4 separate regions of the Homo sapiens genome follow, and regions 1, 2 and 3 are each reported to be linked to region 4. The links are microRNA targets in miRTarBase. Many come from high-throughput screens and were not tested one by one. Region 4 holds a microRNA gene; each other region holds the end of a gene's coding sequence.

Region 1 (3,097 bases), not on the chromosome of region 4:
AAGGAGGTGAGAGGAGAGAGCCAAAAAATAGGCTTGGTGAGAAGGAAGGAGACACTGAGGCAGCAGCTGGACAGAAAAACATCAGAAGAACCTTGGTCAGGCATGGCCATTTTCATGCCTCCTCCTTCCCTCTCTTCCTCCTCTCCACCATGCATCCGATTTCAGTATCTTCGGCCCCTAAGGTCCAAATTCCAGATCCAGCATTTACTGGTTGAGTAGCCTTGGGAAAATCATAAGGAGCCCCTTCAGGCTGAGCTCCTGTCACGACATGAGATGAACGCCATAGCAAAATGGGGTTCTTCAATTATTTTTGAGATGGGGTCTTGCTGTGTCGCCCAGGCTGGAGTGCAGAGGCACAAGTCCTGGTTCACTGAAGCCTCGACTGCTGGGGCTCAAGTGATCCTCCCGCCTCAGCCTCCATAGTGGCTGGGACTACAGGTGCAAACCACCATACCCCGCTATTTTATTTTTTGTTTGAGACAGGGCCTCACTCTGTCTCCCAGGCTAGAGTGCAGTGGCACCATCACTGCTCACTGCAGCCTCAACATCCCTGGGCTTAAGGGATCCTCTGTCTTCAGCCTCCCGAGTAGCTGGGACTGCAGGTATACACCACCACGCCTGGCTAATTTTTCTATCTTTTGTAGACAATGTCTTGCTATGTTGCCCAGACTGGTCTCCAGCCCATTGCATGCCCCCTGTGGTGGTGGTGACCCATTAGAAAAACAAATAAAATAGGATTCAATTGATGCCAACTTAAACACACCTGAGGAGGGGTGGAAAGCTGTCACCGTACAGGAAATCTTTGTCCTTCACATCTGTCTCTGGTTGCACGTGTAACAGCTTCCCCCACCTAGTGGCAAGGAAAGTGGTGGATTCCAACTGTGGAGGAAGGGTCGCCGGCATGCAGAGGGAGGGGTGCAGGGGGAGGGGTGCAGAGGGAGGGGCACAGAGGGAGGGGTGGAGGGGCGCAGAGGGAGGGGCGCAGAGGGAGGGGTGGAGGGGCGCAGAGGGAGGGGCACAGAGGGAGCGGTGCAGAGGGAGGGGTGCAGAGGGAGGGGCGCAGAGGGGGGGTGGAGGGGCGCAGGGGGGTGGAGGGGCGCAGGGGGGTGGAGGGGCGCAGGGGTAGGGGTGCAGAGGGAGGGGCACAGGGAGGGGCGCAGAGGGAGGGGTGGAGGGGCGCAGAGGGAGGGGTGCAGGGGCACAGAGGAAGGGGAGCAGAGGGAGGGGTGCATAAGGAGGGGCGCAGGGAGCCCCAAGTCCCCAGGGGCCCACCCGATGCTAACAATGTGCAGTGAGGAAAGCCAGAACGCACTTCGGTTCCATTCCATTTTATTACAGTCCTGTCCTTGAGTTCCAGAATGAATGGCTATTTAATACACAACCCCAAACACTCCTAAAATGGATCTTGTTAACATTCAAAAGTCTCCCATTTCTTTCTCAGTATATTAAATCAAAAGGAAAAAAAAATCTTAAAAAAAAAAAATCAATAGGTTTAGTTCACCCCAGGAAAAGCACCTTTACAACAGGAAACTAAATTGTCAGGAATCTGACCAAAGACACAAAGCAGCAGATAAGATTCCCGACAGAAGAGAGTGACTCCCACTGGAACATAAATAGATCCCCCCAAAGTATACATATTTCACATGAGTGTGTACATATACATGTCATATATTAAAAAAAATTGGTTTCTATACCCAAAAAGTTATTCAGAAATAAATCAACACCCCGAGACCGGGGATGTCGGGTGCCGCAGCCAGGTTACACATCGAGCTTGCACCTCGCTCTGTGCGGATGACCCCTCGGTGCACTGTGCACACTGGCCTGGAGGGGGCTGGATGGGGGCCTCTTTCCTGCCCCCCAATCCCCAGGCCTGGCAGATCCAGTGTTTGCAGAAAAGTGAGCCAGGGAAATCTAGGAAGGCAGGTGCCTGTGTGGTCCCCAAACCCCCTGGTGCAGAGCTCAGGAGCCAGCTGGAGGCTGGGGGCAAATGGCCAAGGCCACCGCCAGCTGCCCTGCAGGCTGCCCTGGGTCCTGGGGTAAAGGGAAGTGCTTGGGACCCCAGGAATGGAACAGCAGCACTCTCACTTTTTAACAGCAGGCCTGACTCTGGGGTCTGCCAGGCCCTGGAGACCTTTGTAGTATCGCCAGTCTGGGCTTCTCCTGGGATCCAGTGGCCTTGGGAGAGGGAGTGGGCTTTCTGACCCGCCAGGCCTGAGCCTCGTAAGCCTGTTGTGTGAGTGTGTGTGTGCTTAACGGAGCTCAACACATTGCAAATGAGTGTTCTACTGGGACATACTGGAGTAGTGTCTGCTTTGGGGGAAGTCAGTTTGTCATTGCATCCTAATTGGTCCCCATGCTGACGTGGATTATTTGTTCCAAAGATATCAGCTGCTGGAAGCGGCAGACACAGAAAACACGTTACACACCTGGAAGCGTAATCCTCTTGGGGCTTGGCACAGTGTTTCCATTCACAGAACAAACAGCAGAAATGCGTGGGAACCCCTTTCCTCATTCCAAACCCTCTCCTGGCACCGCAGGCAAGCAAGAGAAAAGGCCGTGAGAGTCGGAAGGCGCGTCAGTAGTTTTCAGGTTTGCGAGCTCAACCACGAGACAGTCACACACAGCCGTACTCATACCACACGGTCTGCGGATCCCCGCCGGGCTCCGGGGAGGCCGGACTGCTCTTTGAGACGCTCCCTCGACTGCAGTCCTCCAGGGCCCGGCCGAGGTGGGGAGCCAAATCGGGAGACCGACCTGGGCTCTTGGCCGGAAGCCCCTCACTGCAGCCCTGCCCCGGGACCCCGTCTCCCTCTGAGAGGCTGAGCCCTGCCCGGACAGGGGTGATGGTGGCCACCTCCCCTGAGCGTGGGGGCGCCTTGGGCTTGGTCCTGGCAGCCGGGGCTGCAGCAGGTGAGAAGTGCAGGAGCTGGGAGTTGCTGCCACTGCCAGCAGCAGCAGCACCAGCACCTGCAGTGGCAATGGCGGGGGCTGTGGCAGACTGATGCAGGGGGGCCAGCCTCTCCTCCTTTGGGGGAGCCAGGGAGAAGCGCCTCGTGTCCAGCGGCCGGCTGCGGGGACCTGGGCCCTGACAGGAGCT
Region 2 (3,111 bases), not on the chromosome of region 4:
AAAAAAAAAAAAAAAATACAGACACATAGCCAACCTATCAAATTATTTGCTTAATGAATAGAAACAGTCATTAAATGTCTACCATGTGCCAAAAGCTCTGCTGGTCTCTGTTTATAAAAACAGTAAGGGTGGAAGAGGTCGTCTATGAATGGATAGTGTTTAGGAGTTGGCATTGGTTTTTGGTTTTGTCTTTAGCTTTTAGGTTGCTCTTGACATTCAGATATTAAGCTTTTATTCTATAGCTGAAGTCATGATTATTTTTGAGAGACAGCAAAGGGGAGATGTAGAAGATGTTGTTACAGACATGTCAGGAAGGAGTCCCCAGGAGAGATCGTACTGGCCAGCTGCTATTCTGGAGCTCCTAGCAGGGCTGAGCCCAGCAGCTAGTGACTCCCTCCTGTTCTTAAGTGAAGTCAGTGGAAGCAGAATTTCTGGTTTCATTTCAGGTCCACATCACGCTGAGCACCCATGAGTGTGCCGGCCTTTCAGAACGGGACATAAACCTGGCCAGCTTCATCGAACAAGTAGCAGTGTCCATGACATAGACCCTGCCCTTCCTCTTTGAATTCTTCCGGGGGAAGGGGTGACTGAACTGGGAGTCCAGGGAGGGAGCTGAGGAGCCCTTACCCTCCCACCACTCCCCTCCCAAGACCCAGCCGCCGCCGTTGAGGGCTGAGTCCTTGCTGTGGGATGTGCCAGTGTCCCCACCAACACCAGGAATTTAGACCTTTTCCCTGCACCACTCTCTTCATCCTGGGGGCTCTGTTACACTAATTTGAATAAACTCTCCCCTTTCTTTGCAACTTCCCAGCAACAATAATGATTTTCTTGCCAGGCCGTCTCTTGCTCCCTAATTCATTTCCCAGGAAGCTGTGATACAGGGTGAAATAAAGTCTTGTCTTAGAAACCAGGACCCTAAACCCCACACTATGTAATAGAAACACATGTGTTTTTATGTCTCAAATAAAACTATTATATCACTTGGTCTCAGGCTCTAGAAACTTCTTTTCCACAGGTCAATCCAAATTGGAGTCAATAGGCATTTAAATGAAAGCACTTCCTCTGTGCTAGGCACTTCCTCTGTTCAAGGTACTGGAAAATGACAGGGACCAGACCACCTTGCCTTCAGATTCATTATCATCTAGGGGATACCATTTGATTATCATCAAACAGGAACACAATTAACTATTACCAATTACCAATTAACTAGTACTAATTAACTATTACTAGAGTGAATTAATGCTAGGTGGCAGGATAAGAAATGAGCTAAAGGGAACGCAAGTGATTAATGGTGAAAAGGGCAAATCTGGAGGCTTTGAGTTATGCCTTGAAGACCTGGGTAGGATTCTTGGGAGGCAGAGATGGCTGAGAGAACACCATGAACACAGATAAGGGTGTGAAGGGCACAGGTATTATATGCATTGTGGAACCTATGTCTAGAAAGGCAGTCTGGGGCCATATTACAGGTTGAACATCCCTAATTTGAAAATTGGAAATCCAAAATCTGAAACTTTTTGAATGCCAACATGATGCCCAAAGGAAATACTCATTGGATCATTTTAGATTTCTGATTTTCAGATTAGAGATGCTCAACTTGTCAGTATAATGCAAATATTCCAAAATCCAAAATCTGAAACACTTCTGGTCTCACACCTTTCAGATAAGGGATACTCAACCTATATTTTCTTCCTGGCTGTGATGGCTAATGTTAGGTGTCAACTTGATTGGGCCATGGGGTGCCCAGGCATTTGGTCAAACATTCCGGGTGTGTCTGTGAGGGTGTTTCTGAATGAGGATAACATTTGAATCAGTAGACTGAGTAAAGCCGACTGTCTTCCCTAACATGGGTGGCCTCATTCAACCAGGTGAAGGCCTGTACAGAAAAAAAGGGCTAAAAAGGGCTGACCCTCTTCCAAATAAAAGGGAAGTCCTCCTGCCTGACTGCCTTGAGGTGGGACATTGGTCTTTTCCTGCTTTCGGACTTAAACTGAAACATCCACTCTCCTTAGGTCTCAAGGCTACAAGCCTCCGGTGTGCAACAATACCATCTGCTTTCCTGGTTCTCCAGCTTGCCAACTACAGATCTTGGGACTTGTCAGCCTCCATAATCACATGAGCCAATTCCTTATAAGAAATCTCTTTGTGTGTATTGGTTCTGTTTCTCTGGAGAATCATAATACACAGGCCTATCATATCAGATATGGCAGATCCCAAATCCTGATGGTCTCTTCAGTTTCTTAAAATCTTAGCAAAGTTCTTAGGGCTTGCCTGGTTTACTCCACAAGAGAGAAGACACAGGCAGCTTAGGACCTGGCAGGCTATTTATTACTGGAGCAGTTAAGAGATGGTTTGCACAGTCAGTTCCCCAGCCAGGAACTCTCTAGGACAGAATATTCCCACGCTGTCATGAAGAAGGGGGCACTAAGAGCAGCCTCATCTCTACCCCCACGAGAATGCCACACAAATTTTACCTCACATATGTCACTATGCAGAGACTGGGAAGCCTTCTTCCTAATAGTTCTCACCTGTGTCTCCTAACTCAAGTACTAAGCTGACTTGTAAATGCCGGGGTCACTTGGAACAGGAATCTAGCCATGTCACAACTCAGTCTGAATGAGTTGGTCCCCCAGCAAAGGCCAGGAAAGGGGCAGAGGCTGGAGGTTGAGAAATAAGCGTATTGTTCACAAGAGGGATTAGCAGGACCCCGTTCCTAGCATATATGCTAGTAAAGGATTATCAATACCTATATTGATGGCAAACGAGATTCAGACAGTGGTCTCCCATCTGCTCCACTTCTGACTTAAAATTTTCCAAGTGTGCTTTGATCTGATGACTGGAGGACTGAAGGACAGAAGACGCCAGATGCGGAGGTATGGACTATGCTGTTATGTTACATTCCTGCCTCTGCTTATTTTCATGGGTCAAGGGTTGAAAAATGTTCACCCGATGCAGGGACAGCTCATGCCTGTATTTCCAACACTTTGGGAGGCCAAGGCGGGAGGATCATTTGAGCTCAGGAGTTAGAGACTAGGCTGGGCAATGTAGAGAAACTCTGTCTCTACAGAATATACAGAAAAATTAGCCAGGCATGGTGGCACACACCTGTGGTCC
Region 3 (3,000 bases), not on the chromosome of region 4:
TGACAAAGTGAGACCCTGTCTCAAAAAAAAAAAAAAGAAAAGAAAAAGCCTCTATGTGTGCAGGGTGCCAGAGCAGAAGGATGCAAAGAACCTGGTTCTTGAGGACATGGTTCAGCCACTACCCCAAATCCAGAACCACCCCCTCGCCCCACCACCAAGATTTCTTGTCCTGAGATTGTTAGACTGTAACCACCTTGAGGGCAGGGACTCTGATACCTGTACTCCTGGCACCTTGAACAGTACTTAGCACACAGTAGGTGCTCAATAAATATCTGTTGACTAAGTTTTCATAAATAAGTAAATGTCTCCATTGCTTATACCAGTGGGTTGAGGCTTCTGTTGCTTGTAGCCAAGGAATCCTGACTCAGTAACTTCTCTCTCTGGCCCCAAGAACCTCCTGAGAACAGGAGAGGGGCTGGGTATTACTGAACACTGTACTCCACAGGCCCTGGCACAAGACCCACACTCGGTAGAAATAAGCAGCTCTTGCTCAGAGGAGTCACAGACCCTGCCCTGGACCTGGCTTCTGGGTTCACCAGAGCTGGAGGGTTGAGTCTGCAAGTTCCCCTCACACAGACCTAGGGCAAGACGCCCTGTAACAGCTGATGAGAGGAGCTTAAGAAAGTCCACTGGGGGCCGGGCGCGGTGGCTCACGCCTGTAATCCCAGCACTTTGGGAGGCCGAGGTGGGCGGATCATGAGGTCAGGAGATCGAGACCATCCTGACTAACATAGTGAAACCCTATCTCTATTAAAAATAGAAAAAATTAGCCAGGCATGGTGGTGGGCGCCTGTTGTCCCAGCTACTCAGGAGGCTGAGGCAGAAGAATGGCGTGAATCCGGGAGGAGAGCTTTCAGTGAGCCGAGATCGCGCCACTGCACTCCAGCCTGGGCGACAGAGCAAGACTCCATCTCCAAAAAAAAAAAAGAAAGTCCACTAGGTCTCCCACACCAGCGATACCCAGAGGCCACACCAGCTGCAGGCTGAGCGGGTGGAAGCTGGCAGCAAGCACTGCCACTAGATTTGTCTTGAGGTGAAAGAACTTCTGAGACTAGCCAGATCCAACCTCCACACAAGTCAGGAATTTTTAAGCCACTGTCTTCAAGTCCCTCCCAGTTCTAAGTGTGGCAGCCCTGGGATGCCGCAATGAGGGATGAGGGACAGGGCATGAGCCGCTCAACACAGACAGGACCTCAGGACTGATCTGTTCCCATCCCCTTGCTTTCCAGGTGAGAACAGGAGCCCCAGGGAGGGTAGGCAACTTGCCCCAGGGCGCCCAGTGAGCAATGATGGTGTCTCATTTTGAACTCAGGTTGGTTTTACTTTAAAAGGTTTGGGAGTGAGCACAGGGGGACAGGGGTGTCCTCTCAATACTGCAAATTTGCATGCAAAATTAAGGATAAATATGTAGAGATCCACCTTTCTGAAGAGGGTCCACAGCATGCATCACACTCTCAAGGGGATACAAGACCAAAGAAAAGGGGACAGAGTGGAAGGGGCTGGGCCAGAGTCATATGTTGAGTCTCAGCAGTCCTGAGGTGACCTCTGTGTCCTAGATTCTCAGTCAGTGCCCTACACTTCCTCCCCATGGGAAAGGCCATTTCTTCAATGTTCCTGATGAGCCTTGTCTGATGGGAGCACCATGGCTTCCAACAGTAAGGCTCCTGCTGGCACTGCCCATGGACACTGGCAGAGAAGAAATAGGGAAGACCCTGAAGTACCCAAGAACCAACTCACCCTGAACTGTACCCAGAGAGTCCCCAGGCAAGGTGAGGGCCAATCTAGGACTTGAACAGACTTCTGGTGAGACAAGCTCTGCTCTTTGGTTCAAACTGTTGACACATGTCATGGTTAAGTCTTCCATGTTTCCAGACTCCACTGTACACCTTGCTGGTCTGGAAAGGGTCAGCTCCCGAGGCAAATGATAGATTAAACACAACAGCAAAGTATGAAAATTAATCGAGATATTTAATAGACAGTGCAAACCATAATTTCATCTGAATATAAATGTATGCACGTTTCCAATGAGTTATCTATCAGTTATCACAAACAGCAACAAGGACCTTATAGCTATGTTAGAAAACTGTATAGTTGGAACTTAATTCTAACAATCTCACTTGCTCTCAAGAGAACACCATCCATTTCAAATCAATGTCACAAACTCCAGAAGACCAGGGGAGCAAGGGGGTGAGGAGTGGGCCAGAGTGGTAAACACAGGGCCAATACACAGGTGATGGACAGAAACACAGCTCTGGAGGAAATCAAAATCAGATGCATTATTACAGCTAAGGGCAAGGAAAAGCCTATGGCTTTTGAAAAATGACTTTTCTGCCAGTACCGTACAAGTACACAAAGAGATGTGCGGCAAGTCAACTGACTTACAAGGACAGAGGCTACATTTCAGGTCATTTCAACTGCAACCAGTCGACCCTTTCCATTGAGGATTCAGCAGTGGAGTCAGCGTAGTCCAGAAGCTCAATGTTGGATTTGCAAATACAGTTTATTTTACAGAAATTCAACATTATAAACAGCAGGCACTTCCCACCCCGCCCGCCCCCCTCCCCCCGCCCATCTCCCAGGTGCAGACCATGCTATGCAGAGAGTGAGCAGCAACGCGGCCCTACTGCTTTGGAGTGAGAGTCGAAAGCGATGGAACCTGCCTGCACCACATCCTGCCTGCCCCACACACGCACACGCCTGCTCGCTGCGCAGGCCACCACAGTCTGTCTGGGCCCAGCCAGCGCTGGACCCCATTACATGGATCCAGCCCAGTTCTCCAATTCCTTCATGTCGTCGTCCTCCTCTTCTTTCTTCTTGGCTGTGTGAAGACAGAAAAGGCTATTTAGGATGACTGGTGCGTTCAACATGTTCTGGCCGGAAATGAGGGCTGCCTGTGCTCCATGGTGTCTGTCAAACAGCCCTGCCCTGTGGCCAGACTCCTCTCCAGGCTGTAGGGAGACTGCTCCTTGGTGCCTAAAAGCTGCAACATACAACTCTGGA
Region 4 (3,111 bases):
TCGTCTTAATCAAGGAATCCTGACTTAACCTTATTCTTTCTCACAGACACAGTTCAATGCTGCAATGGAGCCTGTGGTGAGCACTGATTCAATAGGTGGTTTGCCTCCTTAGACGCAGAATCACAGGACTAGAAGGAGTGAAAACAACACTTTATCTCTACATTGGCTTCAGGGAGGACAGTGCCCAAACCACCTCAAGTACAGAATAATTTACTCTCATTTAGAAGATCTCCAGACAGAGCTCGAATGGCTCCCTTGGCAACAAATTTTAGTTTTAACAATCTTTGTAGCTTTATCCTTCCCTCCAGATAATGCCATAACTGTGTACTCTAGATTAAACGTTTTCTCCTTTTCTGCCCACAGTGCTTTTGAAGCCAAACATGATTTCACATATAGTGTTGGGTCATCATTAAGTCACCTTTCAGAAGTCCCTCTAAATTAAGGAGTCCTCATCCTTTCCTTAAATTTTTCATGTGTCCTGACCTATGAGAATCTGTTATACGCATGTTTAATTTCTATGGAATACCTCATCATACAACTTGAAATTCTGATTGACTAGTGGTTTTTTTCCTGCATAAGTGCTACTTCATCTATGCCTCAGTAACAAACAACAACAATCACTTAATGGAAATGGTGGCAGGCAGAATTCTAAGATAGCTGCCAGATTCCTGCCGCCCCTGGTGTGCATTCCTTGATAATCACTCTCCTTTGAGTGCAGGCAGACCTGTGTGTATGATACCACTGCTATGATTACATTGCTCATCAGGCGACTGTGAGCTAGCCAAAATGGAGAATATTCTGGTGGGTCTGACCTAGCCAGGTGAGCCCGTTTCTGAGTCATAGAGATTGAAAGTGTGAGAGGGATTTGATGTGAGGGGGAATTCTCTGTTGCTGGTTTTGAGTATAAAAGGGGCCATATAATAAAGACTTGAGAGTGGTCACTAGTTGCTGAGATCCATCCCTAATTGAAGCTAGCAAGAAACACTTCTACCAACAACTTGAAGGAATTTGGAAAAGAATCCTTCCCTAGTCAAGTCTCTAGAGGGGAATGCAGCTAACTGACACCTTGATTTCAGCCTCGTGAGACCCTGAACAGAGATATCAACCACTCAGTTGCCTGGACCTCTGACAGAAATGAAAGATAATAAATGTCTGTTGTTTTAAGCCACTAAGTTTATGGAAATTTGTTACACAGCAATGGAAAACCAATATAGGCCCCTATCCATGAGTTACATTGTAGTAAACACCTTTCCTACATTATAGATATCTCATCTAACTCCTACAGCAACCCTTGAGGTAATCACTGTGTCCATTGTCAGAGCAAGAAAACTGAAGCTCGGCTTCATAAACAGAAGCAGCAAGGATTGATTCCTTAAATACTGTGAATTCCACTCTCACTTTATTTGAATTTGTGACAGTGAAATTCACAGTATTCTTTAAACATTTTACCCCCAAGCGATGCTCTTTCCTCTGAATTGCTTTGCCTGTCCTAATAATTTTATTTATACAGGCTGATGCTGGTGACTTGGGAATAGTATTTTTATCCAAACCATTTGGCTTCTTATAGGTATGAGCCACTGAGGGAGCTATTTTTTATTTAATTGTGCTTTGGAAAAATCAAACGTAGCCTTGAGTTTTAAAATTATTAAGCTTACACTTTTTCACAAAATAGAAATGGAGTAATATAGCTCTGTCCTTCCGTTTTTTAAAGCCAAAAAATGTAAGAATGGAATGTACTGGCTCACTGCTCCCACGGTGTCCTTACCAGCACAACTTACCCCATCCCTCCCTAGCCCACTCTTGAGGATACTTTCTTGCCACTGTCAGGCTTACTCCTGCCTCCTAGACTGAGGAAAGAAAAGCCTCCTGGTTTGGAGCTCATAATCAAGTCAGCCTTGCTGCAGGGCTCATTTTAAGCCAGTATCCTGGACCAGGTGAGTCTTTTTATTCATCTCTGCTTTGTATCCAAGTTCCATTTATCAGGTTACTAACTGGCCCCATCATGCATTCCTTCAGTAATTACTTTATTTTTAGCACTGCCAAGAAAGCAAGTCTTTTCCTACAAAAACACAGGATTTCCAGTGGGGTTAAATAAATGTGCCTATGTTCTCACTTGAGACAGCAAAAAGGGAAGGAGCGAAAATTGTGGAAAGAATTGAAGACAGAGGGTAGAGGGTAGGGTGCCAAGTGTGGGGGAAAACTGAATTATGAATATTAAGGAAAAATGAAAAATAATATTAAACTGAAATGGAGAGAAATAATATAAGTGAGAATAGAAAAACATAAAACAACCTTCCCCAAAACAAAGGATAAAGAAAAAAGAATTCAGGGGAAGCTGTAAATATCTAAGACATAGCAGCAAGGGCCTGGGAATACTTATAGTGTTTGAAGTTCTGAGCTTTATTTCGCTGCAGTGAGGATCTTAAAGATGCTTAAACATATGAATAAGCAACAAAGTAATGTGACCGTTCAGCTACAGGAAAGGGGTCCCAATCCAGGATCCAGACCCCAAGAGAAGGTTCTTGGATCTCTCACAAGAAAGAGTTCAGGGCGAGTCCATAGAGTAAAGTGAAAGCAAGTTTCTTAAGAAAGTAAAGAAATAAAAGAATGGCTACTCCATAGACTGCATCCACGACGGCTGCTGGTTGCCCATTTTTATGGTTATTTCTTGATGATATGCTAAACAAGGGATGGATTATTGATGCCCTCCCTTTTTAGGCCATATAGGGTAACTTGCCATGGCATTTGTAAACTGTCATGACGCTGGTGGGAGTGTAGCAGTGAGGACGACCAGAGGACACTTTCATTGCCATCTTGGTTTTGGTGGGTTTTAGCCATCTCCTTTACTGCAATCTGTTTTATCAGCAAGGTCTTTATGACCTTTATCTTGTGCCGACCTCCTATCTCATCCTGTGACTTAGAATGCCTTAACCATCTGGGAATGCAACCCAGTAGGTTTCAACCATATTTAACCAGCTTCTATTCAAGATGGAGTTGCTCTGGTTCAAACGCCTCTGACAGTTTTCAGAGATTATTGTCAATTCAGGAGTCAAATCATTAGAGACTTTACAAAAAATCAGATGAGGGTAATAAAACTTATGATAATATAAT

Evidence for each region. Region 4 holds the annotated microRNA hsa-miR-4693-3p (UGAGAGUGGAAUUCACAGUAUUU, at 1,375-1,397, opposite strand). A microRNA usually pairs through its seed, bases 2 to 8, with sites in the 3' UTR of a target mRNA and lowers its output. Matches are read on the target gene's strand: a 7mer-m8 pairs with bases 2 to 8, a 7mer-A1 pairs with bases 2 to 7 and ends in A, and an 8mer does both.
Region 1: miRTarBase lists CCDC88C as a target of hsa-miR-4693-3p. Seed matches in the 3' UTR shown: 7mer-A1 at 2,558-2,564 and 7mer-m8 at 1,589-1,595.
Region 2: miRTarBase lists PCBD1 as a target of hsa-miR-4693-3p. Seed matches in the 3' UTR shown: 7mer-m8 at 741-747.
Region 3: the mRNA of CHMP4B is a reported target of hsa-miR-4693-3p. Seed matches in the 3' UTR shown: 7mer-A1 at 2,635-2,641 and 7mer-m8 at 2,599-2,605.

Annotation. Positions count from the first base shown.
Region 1 is chr14:91,270,011-91,273,107 of GRCh38, forward strand. CCDC88C (coiled-coil domain containing 88C) reads right to left here. Exons shown (of 30, transcript NM_001080414.4): 30 at 1,313-3,097. The coding sequence ends at 2,615. It also overlaps a transcript of GPR68 not described here. Among named protein-coding and RNA genes, the nearest start is that of GPR68, 27 kb to the left of the region's middle.
Region 2 is chr10:70,881,384-70,884,494 of GRCh38, reverse strand. It overlaps PCBD1 (pterin-4 alpha-carbinolamine dehydratase 1), which reads left to right. Exons shown (of 4, transcript NM_000281.4): 4 at 447-985. The coding sequence ends at 545. Among named protein-coding and RNA genes, the nearest start is that of PCBD1, 5.6 kb to the left of the region's middle.
Region 3 is chr20:33,853,314-33,856,313 of GRCh38, reverse strand. It overlaps CHMP4B (charged multivesicular body protein 4B), which reads right to left. Exons shown (of 5, transcript NM_176812.5): 5 at 1,948-2,818. The coding sequence ends at 2,754. Among named protein-coding and RNA genes, the nearest start is that of CHMP4B, 43 kb to the right of the region's middle. RefSeq lists an enhancer at 2,547-3,000.
Region 4 is chr11:103,848,237-103,851,347 of GRCh38, reverse strand. MIR4693 (microRNA 4693) reads right to left here and starts at 1,442; the gene lies at 1,368-1,442. LOC102723862 (a long non-coding RNA gene) reads left to right here and starts at 1,797. Exons shown (of 4, transcript XR_001748346.2): 1 at 1,797-1,934.